2 separate regions of the Homo sapiens genome follow, and region 2 is reported to be linked to region 1. Evidence: microRNA targets listed by miRTarBase, many of them from high-throughput screens and not tested one by one. Region 1 holds a microRNA gene; the other region holds the end of a gene's coding sequence.

Region 1 (7,966 bases):
CAAAGCCTGGGAGACTTATGGAGACTTATTTGTTCTAGACATTTGAGGAAATTTCTGCAATTCTTAGCTGATGACTAAGCAAACTGAGCAGATACTTCAGTGACCACACTTGAAAAAGGATAGAGACTTTATAGAATTAGTCCAGGAAAGTTACTAAGAAACAGCAACAACAACAAACAAAACAAATAAACAACCAGCAATATTAATAAACCCTGGGATGGGAGAGAGTCTGATTTCCATAGTTGTTACATTATATTATGTAAAATGACTATTTTCAACAGGAAATTATGAGACTCAAAGTAGGGCCCATATATTGGGAAAAAAAAAGCAGTTAATAGAAACTGTCCCTCAGAAAGCCTTGATGCTAAACTTACAAGGCCAAGTTGTTAAATCAGCGATATTAAATGTTTGAAGAACTAAAGGAAACTATGTATAAAGAACCAAAGGAAAGTATGAAAATGATATAAAACTTAAGAGAGAATATCAATAAAGAGATAGACATTTAAATAATTTCTTTTTAAATAAAACAACCAAATAGAAATTCTAGAGTCAAAAAGTACTGAAACAAAAAAATTCACTAGAGGGTTTCAAGAGCATATTTGAAAAAGAATCAGTGAACCTGAAGATAAACCAATTGAGAAAATCTGGTCTGAGAAAGAGAAAGAAAAAAAGATTAACAAAGATGAAGAGAACCTTGCAGATCTATAGGATACCATCAAGCATGCCAATCTATGCATAATGGTAGTCTCGGAAGAGAGAAAAAGGAGCAAAAAATATGCTTGACAAAATAATGGCCAAAAACTGCCAGCGTTTGATGAAAAACATTAATCTATACATCAAAGAAACTCAACAGACTCCAAGTATAGTTGACCCTTGAACAACATGGGTTTGAGCTGTTCAGGTCCACTTATATGGAACTTTTACTCACCTCTGCCATCCCTGAGATGGCAAGACCAACCCCTCTTTTTCCTTCTCCTCTTTAGCCTACTCAATGTGAAAACAGAGGGGATGAATTCCTTTCTGATTACCCACTTAATGAATAGTAAATATATTTTCCTTATTATTTTCTTTTCTCTGGCTGGCTTAATGGTAAAAATACAGTATATGATACTTATAACATTAAAAAAAGTGTTAATCAGCTGTTTATGTTGTCAGTAACATTCTGGCCAATAGTAGACTATTGGTAGTTAAGTTTTTGGGAAGTCAAAAGTTGTATGTGGATTTTTTTTCTACCCTCTTCTCACAGGTATGTATATGTGGATGTTTGACTAGTGGGGTCGGCACCCCAACCCCTCATGTTGTTCAAGGTTATACTGTAGTATAAATGCAAAGAGATGCACACCTATACACAACATAACCAACTGGAAAACCAAGGGCACAGAGAGTATATTGAAAGCAGAAAGACAGAAGCAGCTCATCATCTCTGAGGTATTCTTGATAAGATTAACAGCCAAATTCTTTCCAGTAACTTTATGAATATAAACTATTGTTATGAATATAGACTATCAGAATGATTCCAGCTCCATATAAAAATATTTATGGACCATGACAAAGTGGAATTTATTCCATGAATACAGGCTCAGCATACATTATCATATATCATATTAATAGAATAATGGACAAAAGCCAAACAGTCATGTCATAGATATGAAAAAGCACTTGAGAAAATTCAACACACTTTAATGATTAAAAAAACAAACAAGAAACCTGGAATAGAAGGAAACTTCCTCAGCCTGATAAAGGGCATCTATGAAAACACACTGCTAATGTCACTTTGTGGTGAAAGGCTTGAAAAAATTATCCCATCTTAGTCTGTGTTACTATTAATATAAAGGCATACCTGAGGCTGGGTAATTCATGAAGAAAAGAGGTTCATTTGTCTCACGGTTCTGCAGGCTGCACAAGAATCATGGCATTGGCATCTGCTTCTAGTGAAGGCTCCAGGCTGATTCCACTTATGGCAGAAAGTGAAGAGGAGCTGGTATATGCATATCATATGGTGAGAGAGGAAGCAAGAGAGAGACTAGAGGAGGTACCAGGCTTTTTTCAACAACCAGTTCTTGTGGGAACTAAAAGTAAGAACTCACTCTCGTGAGAATGGTACAGAGCTATTCATGAAGGATCCACCCCCACAACCCAAACACTCCTACCAGGCCCCATCTTTAACACTGGGGATCAGATTTCAACATGAGACTTGGCAGGGCCAAACAAATCATATTCAAACCATAGTACCACCTAAGATCAGGAATAAGACAAGGACGTTCACTCTTACCATTTATATTCAGTGTTGTACCAAGGGCTGCATACCCATCAGTCAGAATCCTTGTGTCATGGCATCCTCCAGGTGTCACTTTTCCAGTTGGAAACCTCTGTGGCCAGTGGTGCCTTTGCCAGAGTTTTGCTCAAGCCTGCTGGGCTTGTTCCACCCACTCGGCCTGGCAGGCTGCACTCAGCTCATGCTACTGGCCTGGCTCCCACACCTTCAAAGAATGATCCAGGCATGGAGAGGAGAGGGGTGCACAAGTAAGCAAGCATGGGGTCTGGCTGCTGCACACAGCCAAGCATTGGCTGCTGTGGTGGGGTGGGCAGTTCCAGGTGCCACCACAGGTGCTGGCTCTGTTCAAGCCTGTGGCTGGATCAGATGCACTATAAGTGGCTTCTGCTCTGGGCACTCACATCTGGACAAGGGGAACATGGTGGCACTTGGAAGCTCCAAGACACTAGAAACCACAGAGCCCCAAAGAGGGTGTCACAGCCCTGGCTGGGGGAGCCTGTGCATCTGAGCTCCCTGAAGGGCTGCAGCTCTTCTCTCCTTCTCATTGCCTGCAGTGTGACGAGTGGGGTGGAGGCAGGTGTTTTAGCTCTGTTTGTGTTATAGCACTTTCAGTCCCACCATTCAACAGGTCCTGAATTTTTGTCCTGTGTCCAGGAAGAATGAGGTATGCAGAAAACTGGAGGGTGAGCAAGGCAGAAAGGAACTTTCTTGAGCAAAAGAGTGACAGAACAGCTCTTGGGAGACCTGGAGTTGGTAGCTCCTTTCCACAGGCAGGTCATCCCAACTAGTTCAGCCCTCAGTAGAGAGGAGCCCCAGATTGGGTAGCTCCATTTCACAGGCAGGTCATCCTGACAAGTGTCCAGCTCTCTGGGGAGAGGAGACCTGGAGTGGGTAGCTCCTTTCCATAGGCAGTTAGTCCTGACGAGTGCATCCCTCAGCAGAGAGGAGACCAGAGTGGGCAGCTCCTACCTGCAGGCAGGTCATCCCAACAAGTGTCCAGCTCTCAGAAGAAAGGACACCTGGAGTGGATAGCTCCTTTCTGCAGGCAGGTAGTCCTGACGAGTGCAGCCCTCAGCAGAGAAGAGACCCAGAGAAGGTAGCTCCTAGCTGCAGGCAGGTTGTCCAGATGAGTGTCCAGCTCTCAGGGGAGAGGAAACCCAGAGTAGGTAGCTCCTTTCCACAGACAGGTTGTCCCAACAAGTGTTCAACTCTCAGCAGAAAGGAGACCCAGAGTGAGTAGCTCTTTTCCACAGGCAGGTCATACTGACAAGTAGAGGAGACCTGAAGTGGGTAGCTCCTTCCTGCAGCTGGTAGTCCTGACATCTGTATGAGTCTAGCTAGGTAACATAGTTTTTATGGGCTCAGAAAGGAAGAAGTGTGTTCTGATTGGCCCATGGGTGGCCATGGGCGGGCCTGGAAAAAGCACCATAAGTTCTCACTCCAGGCCGCAGACTCCACCTGGAGCTGACAGCCCAGCCCCCAGGCTTCATGCCATCCATGGCTTGAAGGTTGCGTTTCACTGGGAACCTGCCCCTTTCTGCCCAGGAGCCTGTCTGCCTCCTGTCACCATCAACATGTTGTCCATGCCGCCCAGGCTGTTCATGCTGAGGTTTGCCTACAGGCCCACACTGAGCCACCCTGAGCAACCCCTTGGTCTCCCTCTTGTGCTCTTCAGTTCCCAAAGTCTGGATGGCCTGAGACAGCAGGGGGCTGGCATGTCAGCACTGCCCTGAGTGCTTGGGTACCCAGCTGGGTCACAACAGTGCCTGGGCTCTGCCACAACTTTGCTCTGCCCCAGAGTGGGGGCCAGGAGCAGGGAGAGGCCAGGCAGTGGGAGCAGGCACTTTCAAGCCTACGGGAACAAAGGGCTTCCGGGGCCCCTGAGACCTCAGGGATGCCTGGGTCTGTGGCTACAGCTGAGAAGCTGCAGCTGTGCCTGGGAGCATGTGGCTCCTGCTCCACTGACTTGTTAGGGGGTGGGGCTCCCACCTGTTCCCGGCACCCGTGGGCTCAGCAGAGTGTGCAGCCCCAGTTGTGCTTCCCCTGCTGAAGCCGGCATCTTCACAGTGGCTACTCCAGACAGGCCACTGCTGCCATCACTTGCACCAACCTGTAGGTGACAGTCTTCCTCCATGAAGCCAGTTCATATGCTCTAGAAGTTACTCCTCCATGAAATATGCAAAGAAACAGCCCAAGGCTACAAGAAATACGCACACACGAAATCAAAGAAACAGGACACCACCAAAGGAACACAATAATTTTCCAATAACCAACCCCAAAGAAATGGATATCTATAAATTGCCTTCCAAACAATTAGAAATAATTGTTTTTAAAGAAGTTCAGCATGCAATAGGAGAACACAGTTGGACAACTCAGTGAAAACAGAAAAAGAGTCTACGGCCATACCACCTCGAACATGTCTGATTTCATCTGAAAACAGAGAAAGAATACATGAACAATACAAGAAGTTCAACAGGAAGGTAGAACTTATAAAAAAGAACCAGGCTGGGAGTGGTGGCTCACACCTGTAATCCTAGCACTTTGGGAGGCCAAGGTAGGCGGATTGCCTGAGCTCAGGAGTTTGAGACCAGCCTGGGCAACACAGTGAAACCCCATATCTACTAAAATACAAAAAATTAGCTGGGCATGGTGGTGTGCACCTGTAATCCCAGCTACTCAGGAGACTGAGACAGGAGAATCACTTGAACCTGGGAGGCAGAGGTTGCAGTGAGCTGAGGTCATGCCACTGCACTCCAGCCTGGGTGACAGAATGAGACTCCAACTCAAAAAAAGAAAAAAAAAAAAAAAAGAAAAAGAAAGAAATTCTGGAACCAAAAAACCTAATGACTGATATTAAAAACACAATAGAGAACTTCAAAAATAGACTTTATTGAGCAGAAGAAAGAATTTGTGCCCTTGAAGACAGGTTATTTGAAATTATCCAGTCAGAGGAGAAAAAAGAATGAAAAAGAGTGAAGAAAATTTATAGGACTTATGGGACACCATCAAGCAAACCAATATGTGCATAATGAGAGTACTAGAAGAAGAAAAGCAAGAGAAAGAGGTAAAAAGCTTTTTTAAAGAAATAATGGGTTAGGTGCAGTGGCTCATGCCTGTAATCCCAGCACTTTGGGAGGTCGAGGCAGGTGGATCACCTGAGGTCAGGAGTTAAAGACCAGCTTGGCCAACATGGTGAAACCTTGTCTCTACTTAAACTACAAAAATTAGCCAGGTGTGGTGGCAGGTGCCTGTAATTCCAGCTACTCGGGAGGCTGAGGCAGGAGAATGACTTGAACTTGGGAGGCAGACGTTGCAATGAACTGAGATTGTGCCACTGTACTCCAGCCTGGGTGACAGAGCAAGACTACTTCTCAAAAAATTATAATAATAATAATGATAATAAAATAAAATAAAGAAGTAATGGCTGAAAACTTCTCAAATTTTGAGAGGGAAATGGATATCCAGATTCATGAAGCTTACAGGTTTTCAAAGAGGATCAATTCAAGACTATACCAAGGTACATTTTAATCAAATTGTCTAAAATAAAGGACACTGAAAGAATTTTAAAGCTGCAAGAGAAAAGTAATGCATCACATATAGGGAATCACCATAAGACTATCAGTGGCTTTCTCATCAGAAACCTTGCATGCCGAAGAGAATGGGATGATATATTGAAAGAACTGGAAAAAAAAAACTACTTACCGTGAATCTACATCTGGCAAGATTATCCTTTAAAAATGAAGGGGAGATGAATTCTTCCTTAGACAAACAAAAACAAAGGGAGTCTGTCACTACTAGCCCAGCCGTAAAAGAAATGTTTAAAAGAGTTATTTCTTCAAATTGAAATGAAAACACACTAAATAGTATAATGAAAACATATAAAAGCATAAATATTATGAGTAAAGGAAAATATATGGACAAATATAGTTAATATAAAACTATAATGGTGGGGCCTAACTTACTTTTAACCCTAATATAAAAATTAAAAGATAAAAATTTGTCAAAGGATACACAATATAAAAGGCAACAAACTGACTACAAGAACACAAAGTGTAGGGGTGGGGAGTAAAAATGTAAAACGGTTTTTGGTTTTGGTTTTTTTTAGAGACAAGGTCTTACTACATTGCACAGGCTGGTCTCAAACACCTCACTTCAAGCAATCCTCCTGTCTCAGCCTCCCAAAGCACTGGGATTACAGGTGTGAGCCACCATGCCTGGCCAAAAGTATAAAGGTTTTGGATGTGATTGAAATAGTTATAAACTTAAAAATAGATGGTTAGAAATACAAGATATTTTTCATAAGCCTCAAGTTAACCACAAAGAATAAAATCTGTAACAGATACAGAAAACATAAAGAGATGAGAATCAAAGCAATCACTATAAAACATCAAATAACAAACGAATATAATAAGAGAGGAAGAGAGGGGCAATATAACTGCAAAAGACACAAACCAGTTAACAGAATGGCAATAGTAGTCCTCAGCTATCACTAATTACTTTAAATGTAAATGGATTAAACTCACCAATTAAAAGGCATAGAGTGGCTGTGTAATTTGAAAGAACAGGATCCAATGGTATGTTGTTTATAAGAGACTGATTTTAGAGTTAAAGACACATATAGACTAAAAGTGAAGAGATGAGAAAAGATTTCTCACGCAAATGGTAACCAAGGATACGCAGGGTAACTATACTTATGTTAGACAAAACAGATTTTAGTTTAAAGCTGCCTGCAGAGACAAAGTCTTGATATAATTATAAAAAGATCATTTCAACATGATTATGTAACAATTATAAATATGTATATACTGAACAAAGAGCATCTAAATATATAAAGCAAATGTTGACAGATCTGAAGGCAGAATTTGACAGTAACATGATAATAGTAGAGGATTTCAATACTCCACTTATAATAATGTACAGAATATCAAAAAAGAAACAGAAAACACTATAAAACAAATGATCCTAACAGATATATAAAGAAATTTGCACCCAACAACAGAAGATTATCCACTTTTCTCAAGCATACATGGAACATTCTCCAGGATAGATCATATGTTAGATTACAAAACAAGTGACCTAATTTAAGAAGATTGGAATTATTCCAAGTATCTTTCTGGACCACAAGGGATGAAAGTAGAAATCAATAATCTTAAGAAAATAGGAAAAATCACAAACACATAGAAACTCAACAACAAACTCTTGAACAACTCTTGGGTCAAAGAGGAAATCAACGGGTAATTTTAAGAGTATCTTGAGGCTAGAAATGATGGCTCACATCTATAATCCCACTGCTTTGGGAGGCCAAGATGGGAAAATTGCTTGAGACCAAGAGTTTGAGGCTAGCCTGGGCAAAGAAAAAAAAAAAAAAAAAAAAAAAGAAAGAAAGAAAAGAAAGAGAGAAAGAAAGGGAAAAAAAAGAGAAAAACAGTAGAACATACCAAAATTTATAGGGTGCAGCAAAAGCAGTACTAAAAGGGAAGTATATAGTGATAAATGCCTACATTAAAAGAAGAAAGAAGGCCGGGCACAGTGGCTCATGCCTGTAATCCCAGCACTTTGGGAGGCCGAGGTGGGAGGATCACTTGAGGTCAGGAGTTTGAGACCAGCCTGGCCAACATGGCAAAATCTCATCTCTACTAAAAATACAAAAAATTAGCCAAGCATGGTGGTGCGTGCCTGTAATCCCAGCTA
Region 2 (7,966 bases), not on the chromosome of region 1:
CTCAAATGTGCAATATTGTTAGATAACAAGGTACACTGGAACTGCAATATTGTTTGAAATATTTAAATCACATCATTCCAAATTGAATTCAACATCAAGTGGTCTTTTTTTTTTTCCTGCTACATAGGTAATACAGGATAGTTTTGATGACTGAAAAATAGGCTATGTTTCCAGACTAGATTAGAATGTGGGGAGAAGCTTAGAAAGAGAAGGCTGAAAAGAGAAAGAGAACAATGGAAGAGAAGTAGAGAACTAAATGCATCAAATTAATTGAACGAAGTCTGAACTAATTAGTAAAGAGCCATCAGAAGGAAAGAGGTGTTGAGAAACAGAAAGTCAAAAAATCCAGGGCTGGGTGCAGTGACTCACGCCCATAATCTCAGCACTTTGGGAGGCCGAGGCGGGCTGATCACTGGAGGCCAGGAGTTCGAGACCAGTCTGGCCAACATAGTGAAACCCTGTCTCTACTAAAAGTACAAAAATTAGCTGGATGTAGTGGTGCATGCCTATAAACCCAGGTACTCAGGAGGCTGAGGCTGGAGAATCCCTTGAACCCGGGAAATGGAGGCTGCAGTGAGCCAAGATCACACCACTGCACTCCAGCCTGGGTGACAAAGTGAGACTCTGTCTCAAAAAGAAAAAAAAAAAAGTGAAAAATCCTAGTTATTGGAATTAGGTATGGGAACAGGCAATTTGGTTTTCAGTGTTGTTTGGGAATATTTAAGTCTTAATTTATACAAGTTAGCCTCACATTTAAAAGTAAGAAGATCTCTATTGAGATAATGGATCATTACTGGAGTGCAATTGGTAAATGACTTCACTTTTCATAAGTGTTTTGATGTGAATTTATGAATATTCTCTAGCTGCTCACTGGGTTTGTGAAGTTAGTTTGAATGAGACATGATTGCACCCTAGGCAAGTCAGAATGTACTTGCTTTGATTTCACTGTGATTACTTTTACTATAAAAGATTCCCATTAAATACAAGTAAGTTCCCACTTAACTTTCCTGTAATTCCACCCTTGCTGCAAGCAGCTGACAGGCAAATTTGATCAGATGTAATACATCCAATCAGATAAAGAAGGGGTTTCAGCAAAACACTTGGCAGATTTGAAGAGCTGAATAGAAAAGGTCATGAGCTGTCTGAAAACTTTTAGACACAAGAGGAAGCAAATAGTAGAAAGCGTGAGAGCACTCTTAGGACAGGGATTGGCATTTCCCCCTTACGGTTTCTCACGTAATTTGTGAAGACATAAACACAAGGGTAACTGTTAAATTCGTTGTAATTATCACATGTACAGAACAGCCCAGTTCACATAATGCTGCACTAAATTCAAAGTTAGTGTTATAAAAAAAGATGCCTCTAAAACATATGAATTACCTAGGAGTTTTTAAAAAATGCAGATTCTGATTTTGTAAGTTTGAGATGGGTTGCAACAGTTTGTATTTCCAACATGCCTCTCATGCGGCAGCCATGCTGCAAGGGCATGTTTAAACTTCCCCATTTACACAGGCCATGAGCCCCGAAACACCCATCAGCAATCCTGGGATGGGTGTTTCGGGGCTCATGGCCTGTGTAAATGGGGAACTTTAATGTTAGATGTTCATTCCATCTTTGGAAACATTATTATATAGATCATATAAGATTTAGATTAGAAACTAACCAAGCATTTTCTCTTCAACCATACATTTACTCTGCTACTCCTTTAAGCTTTGCATACAGTTGAAGATTGGCTGTACCTATACCACCCTCAGATCTGAGCAAGTGAGGGCCTTACCCCAGTCCTGTGCCTCATAGAGCCTTATTCTTTGGAGTGCCCTCTATGAAATTTTCCAAGTCCTCTTCGGATGCCTGCTCTGTTTTTTCTCTCTGGGGTACTCTCCCTTTCTCTCCCTGTGTATAAGGTTGACCAGATATCCTGGGGAGCTCTGCAACTTGTAACTATAGGATCATCCTGGGGTCTTGTTTCCAGGCTTTCGTTTCAGGAGGGTGGCCTGGAGAGCAGACTGCTACTTCTGGTTGGCAAAGAATTTCTTTTGCAGGATTACATGAAATTTGGCTGCCAGAATGATGCTGACATGCTGATTTTGGATAATTCTCACTCACATTGGGCATAGATCTAATTTAGGGTTGTAAGCTATCTAAGGTCCACTGCCCAAGCCGCATGTGTTGACCCATGCATCCACTCGCAGTTTGTTCTGAGTATGATGCCACTTCTGCTATATAACATCCAAGGGCTGCAGGGTGACATCAGATGTCCTTACCCCGCTTGCCAATGGCATTCAGGAAAATCATCCTATCCCCTCTGCAGGTTCTATGCCATGGGTCAGGCAGTCCTTTTGGCTGGGGGTTGGGGGGTGGCTGCACTTATCTCTTCTGAGGGCTTTTAAGACTATTGCTTCTTCACAACAGTGGGCCTTTCTGACTGATGTGATGATGCTGTGTTCTCTTCTCCCTGGTCAATGTTAAGCTCTCCTAGAGGAGGGACAGACATTCCTTGTGCAAATGGGGCTGTTCATTTTGTTCTGTCCACAATCCCCTCTCTGCTGCTGGTGGTGTGTGGGAGGTAGGGTACGGTCAGGAGTGGCAGAGATCAATTCTAGAAATGTAATGATGATGGCCTAAAAAGTTCAAGACAAGACACAGTTGAAAGATGTGTTGTTCTATGTGATGCTATAACATTCTAAATGATAAATTTAAAATGAGCAATAAACAACGAATCATTCATGTTTTCTCGTATATATACCCTGGGTAAGACTTGAATTTGTGATTATCATCAAACATTGTACCAGTAACAATTGTACTATATTGAACTGTGTTGTACCAGTAACAATCTTTGAGTGATTGTCTCTGAGTGATACCCAGTATTCATGGGTAGCACAATGGATGATGCAATGTCAAAAGGCATAATGTAGCTAAGATTAAATAAATGGTAGCAGGGTATTGGAAAGGGGTGAAGATTCATATTATTTTATTACAAACATATTACAAAGAGCCATGGCATTATGAATAATAACAGCATTGCTACCCTTTCTTGTGGTAAAAGATATGAAATTAGCTAGGAATGGCTCATTTGATAAAAAAGAAATGATTCCTGGACCAAAGAGATAGTACCAGGATGCCGAGAAGAATCTTTACATGTACTGCTCGGACAATAAATACACAAATCTTCCTATTATTCTAAATCTTTATCAAAAAATCACTATACTGCATGCACATGGACCTATAAATTTTATAAAGCATTTTTAATAAAAGTGTTTATATAGATAGAAGCCCTGCAAAAAAATATTTGTCTGGTGATCTGCACATCCTAGCAGTAGCCCTTGGAACTGGGATTTTGGTGAAAGAGAGGGCTCTTAGAGAGAATTATAGATGAAGATTGTCATAGGAAAACATTTGGAAGCTCAGGTGGAGCTTTTTATTTTTTTGAGACGGAGTCTCACTCTGTTGCCCAGGCTGGAGTGCGGTGGCGTGATCTTAGCTCACTGCAACCTCCGCCTCCCAGGTTCAAGTGATTCTCCTGCCTCAGCCTCCTGAGTAGCTGGGATTACAGGCATGTACCACCATGCCCAGCTAAATTTTGTATATTTAGTAGAGACAGGGTTTCGCCTTGTTGGCCAGGCTGGTCTCGAACCCCTGACCTCAGGTGATCTGCCCCCCTTGGCCTCCCAAAGTGCTAGGATTACAAGCATGAGTCACCACGCCTGGCTGCAGGTGGAACTTTTAAGGAGGAGGACTACACTCAAAATAAGCAAGAAAAATGGACAAAGAGAGATGAATATTTTGCTCGCACATTTCTCTGAGCTTCATTCATAAAAGATTAAAACCAAAATGGAATTAAAATAAGAAGTTTTCTGCTCTGAACTTAACACTGGAATTTAAGAGGTTTCTATTTTTGTCAATATGTATATCATAAAATATTTTTTAGTTGCCTGTGTATGGTAATAGTTCGTCCGCAAAATGTTCTTTCTCAGCGTGCTCTTCCCTGACTCTACTACTTTAAATGCTCTCTCTCATATTTGCAGTCCCTTTATTGTTTGTCCCACCTACTAGAATGTGAGCTCTGTTAAGACAAGGAGTTTGCCTTATTCATATATGTTTCCCTGGGCCTAGAACTTTGAGGGCACTCAGTATTTGTTAAATTAATATTTAAATAGATGAACTAAGAAATACTGGAAACATCCTAAGTGCCTATCAAAAGGGAATGGTTAGAGTACCATTTTAGTACTGTGTACTCATGAAAAAAAGTTGAATTCTCTATACTGAAACAAACAGCTGTTTGTGATAAGTTGGTAAGCTAAAAGAGCAAGTTACAGAACATAATGTATGGTATGAAACTACTGATACGACCCATGCAATAAGAATATAATGTATTTGTCATGAACATGCATCAGTAAAAGACTGGAAGATTGTGCATTGACAGTGTGACCTCTGGGAAATGGGATTGCTGGGGGTAAGCTTCTATTTTTTACTTTCCATGTTTCTCTTTTGAATTTTTGTAACCATACTTTAAAAATAATACATTTTACTCATAAATTTCTTGATTATAAGGCAAGAAATTAAAAGAATGTTATGAAAAAAATTATTGCCGGTGACTAAGAAAAAAAATTAGAAACAATAGCACTGTGCTTAATCTCACACATAGAAAGGGGTCAGTAAGTTCCAGTTGATAAACCAGCACTCCTGCTGTCAAAGAAACCAGAGTTGAGAAAACCCCTGGATTCATTTAATAACTGCCAGATGTAGCTGTTACCATCCACATCCTTGGTTCTTGAAGGACACTCATAGAGACAGAGTTTAGAAGTCAAACGTTTTATTTTATAACTACAAGAGGTTATTTTTTTAAAGCACAATGACATATTTATTTTTAGTGAATTGTTTTTGTGACTTTTAAAAAAATCATTTGTTTTTAATAAAAACAAGAGGATAGTCCATGCAAAAGCATTCTATAATACATGTGAAAAACACACAAAACAAGATTAGTCTTGATGTAGTGGGAGTCGGATTATTTTTTCTATTAAAAAAAAAAAGGCTGGGCACGGTGGCTCACACCCGTAATCCCAGCACTTTGGGAGGCCGAGGCAGGTGGATCACGAGGTCAGGAGATCGAGACCATCTTGGCTAACATGGTGAAACCCCGTCTCTACAAAAAATACAAAAAATTAGCCGGGTGTGGTGGCGGGCGCCTGTAGTCCCAGCTACTCAGGAGGCTGAGGCAGGAGAATGGCGTGAACCCGGGAGGTGGAGCTTGCAGTGAGCTGAGATCATACCACTGCACTCCAGCCTGGGCGAAAGAGTGAGACTCCATCTCAAAAAAACAAAAAACAAAACAAAACAAAACAAAAACCAAAAAACCTTTCTTTCTTCCTTTTCTTCTCTTGGGTCCATTGTTTCTTATGTAATAGCCAGTACAGTTCCTTTTCCTGTGTTAGCTTTAATTTTTGAGCCTAAAATTGTCTAAACATCTCTGGGACCAAGGATATATGAAAGCATAAATTACAAAGAAAAAGGTTATCATGGGGCTAGAACTTAAAATTCTGAGATTTAAAATAGAGTCGGTCACCTTTCATAATGTATCTTATAAGACTATAAAAAGGGAGGAAATATAGAGGGTCCACTTTTGGTGGACTTCAGAGTTATACAGAAGACAGAATCAAGTAATAAAGTCCAGAATAGAGTTGCACCGTTTTGGGCTAATGAAAAAGGAAGAGGCTAGGGAAATCTTTCAAATGCTGAATCTTAAAATATGTCCAGGTTGAGATAAAGCTGCCTGCTGAAACTTGATCTCTTAGCTGTGCACTCATTCTGTGTTCTTGTTGATATTCTGTGGCATGGCTACAGATTGGAATGCTACTTGAACAGTCTTAAACCTTCCCTGTGTAAATAAGTTCTCTTTGTATTTACTTTTAGGGAGGTAGCTTTTGTCCACCTTTAAATGGAAAAATAAAATATCTTAAAGAAAACCTTTTAAGTATGTTTATGTAAGCACAGAAGTTTTTAAGAGGCATGAAAGGAAAAACAGACCTATGAAAAACTACGTAAATATTCTTGAGAAACAGGAAGACAGGTAATTAATCTTGTTCGTTTGACTGCTGCTAGTGCCAAACCAATGTTTTTAATATTATCAGGACTGAAAAAATGTGAAATAAAGCTTTGCAGCATTGATTCGAAACTATTCATATCATTATCATGCATACATCTCTGGCTGGAGCTTATTTATTCATTTCATTTTGATTTTGTGGCCAACCACTGCTTCAAATTGAATATTCTGCATACGATTTAAAATCGCTGAGGCGCGTTCAGGAAGAAACCTGTACAAAAAAGAAAAAAAAATTGAAAAATTTTCCATTTAAAATCTTTGACAACAGAGTTCTGTTTTTGGTCATTTAGAATACGCTGAGAGTTATCTGGTTTGCGTTTAACTTTCCTCCGTTCTTTTCTTCTCTTGCAACCACCTCTCTTTTACGTGTGCATCTTTCTTTTTCTTTTTTTTTTTTGACATAACTTCATAGTGGACTTCATTAGGAAAAGTGTAAAAACATTCAAATTCATAAAATTGAAATGAGACAGTAAAATTATGCCTTGTGGCTATAGTAATTGCTATAGTAATCACAAGTAAGGTAAAGTCTAAATTATTGCCTGAACACAGAGGTTGCAGTGAGCCGAGATCACGCCATTGCACTCCAGCCTGGGCGACAAGAATGAAACTCCATCTCAATAAATAAATAAATAAATTATTGCCTAAACAAACACTATTTTGTCAGGCTTCTGCTGCAAGCCCAAGGCAGAAAACATTGCAGTTATTAGAAGTCAGCCCAATTATGAATCTGCATTTGAAGCTGGAAGAAAGGGGAAAAAGTGTGTTCTGATTACAGCATCAAGACATTCTAGCCTGCAAAACAGTAACTTTATTAACGTCTTGCAGCGGAGTACGTTAATAATCGTAACCATGCATTAAAACTCTCATTTCATGTCAAAAAGAGAGTAATCAGTTTTCCTCATGATTTATGTTTTACTGAATTTCATACAGTTCGTCCCTCTGAAAATGTTTTTAGGAACATTCCCTCTCCAAGGAGTGCATCTTAAGATACCCAGGTTGCTTACGACAGGTCATCTTTGGTCATTTTAAATCAATCTGTCTGAACCTATGTGTGCACCTTTGTAATATTCATAGTTCAAATTGGATGCAAATATAAATAAAGCACTGATACATACCACTCTTCTCACTCTCTTATCTGATATGAGTAAAGATCTAAAACTGAAGGTCTGAGCTCATTGCTGAAACTGCTGATTAATCTTGATGCTAAAAGCTCACCAAGAGACACCACCAGAATCCATTCTATGCAAGCCTTCACCTCTCCTTTACTATTTACTGAATATCTATTATGCACTCTATAATAAGGTAAACTAAAGTACTTGAAAAATAGCTATTGTCTTTGATATTGTTTAGCTGATAGGCTAAAATGGTCATCTTAAAACAATTATTGAAAAATATCAGCCATCTAGAATTAAGGGCTATAACTGGAAGGAGGATTCACATGGGCTGGGATAGTGGAGGAAAGCTTCAAAAGGACAACTGATGTCCAGGAATGCATAAGAGATGAGTAGGCAACTGAAAGGAAGAGAGTGGCTGGCCCGGTGGCTCACGCCTGTAATCCCAGCACTTTGAGAGGCACAGGTGGTCAGATCATGAGGTCAGGAGTTCGAGACCAGCTTGACCAACATGGTGAAACCCTGTCTCTACTAAAAATACAAAAAAACTAGCCAGGTGTGGTGGCACATGCCTGTAATCCCAGCTACTCAGGAGGCTGAGGCAGGAGAATTGCTTGAACTCAGGAGGTGGAGGTTACAGTGAGCTGAGATCAAGCCACTGCACTCCAGCCTGGGCAACAGAGTGAGACCCAATCTAAAAAAAAAAAAAAAAAAAAAAAAAAAAAGGAAGACAGTATGTGAATGTAAAGAGGCA

Evidence for each region. The annotated mature microRNA hsa-miR-6500-5p reads AGGAGCUAUCCACUCCAGGUGUCC and lies in region 1 at 3,289-3,312, opposite strand. An mRNA with a match to its seed (bases 2 to 7 or 8) in the 3' UTR can be bound and repressed. Matches are read on the target gene's strand: a 7mer-m8 pairs with bases 2 to 8, a 7mer-A1 pairs with bases 2 to 7 and ends in A, and an 8mer does both.
Region 2: miRTarBase lists HSD17B13 as a target of hsa-miR-6500-5p. Seed matches in the 3' UTR shown: 7mer-A1 at 6,207-6,213 and 7mer-A1 at 5,243-5,249.

The regions. Positions count from the first base shown.
Region 1 is chr1:51,055,377-51,063,342 of GRCh38, reverse strand. It overlaps MIR6500 (microRNA 6500), which reads right to left and starts at 3,325; the gene lies at 3,240-3,325. MIR4421 (microRNA 4421) reads right to left here and starts at 3,506; the gene lies at 3,438-3,506.
Region 2 is chr4:87,298,998-87,306,963 of GRCh38, forward strand. It overlaps HSD17B13 (hydroxysteroid 17-beta dehydrogenase 13), which reads right to left. Exons shown (of 7, transcript NM_178135.5): 7 at 4,797-6,311. The coding sequence ends at 6,221. It overlaps MIR5705 (microRNA 5705), which reads right to left and starts at 1,586; the gene lies at 1,498-1,586.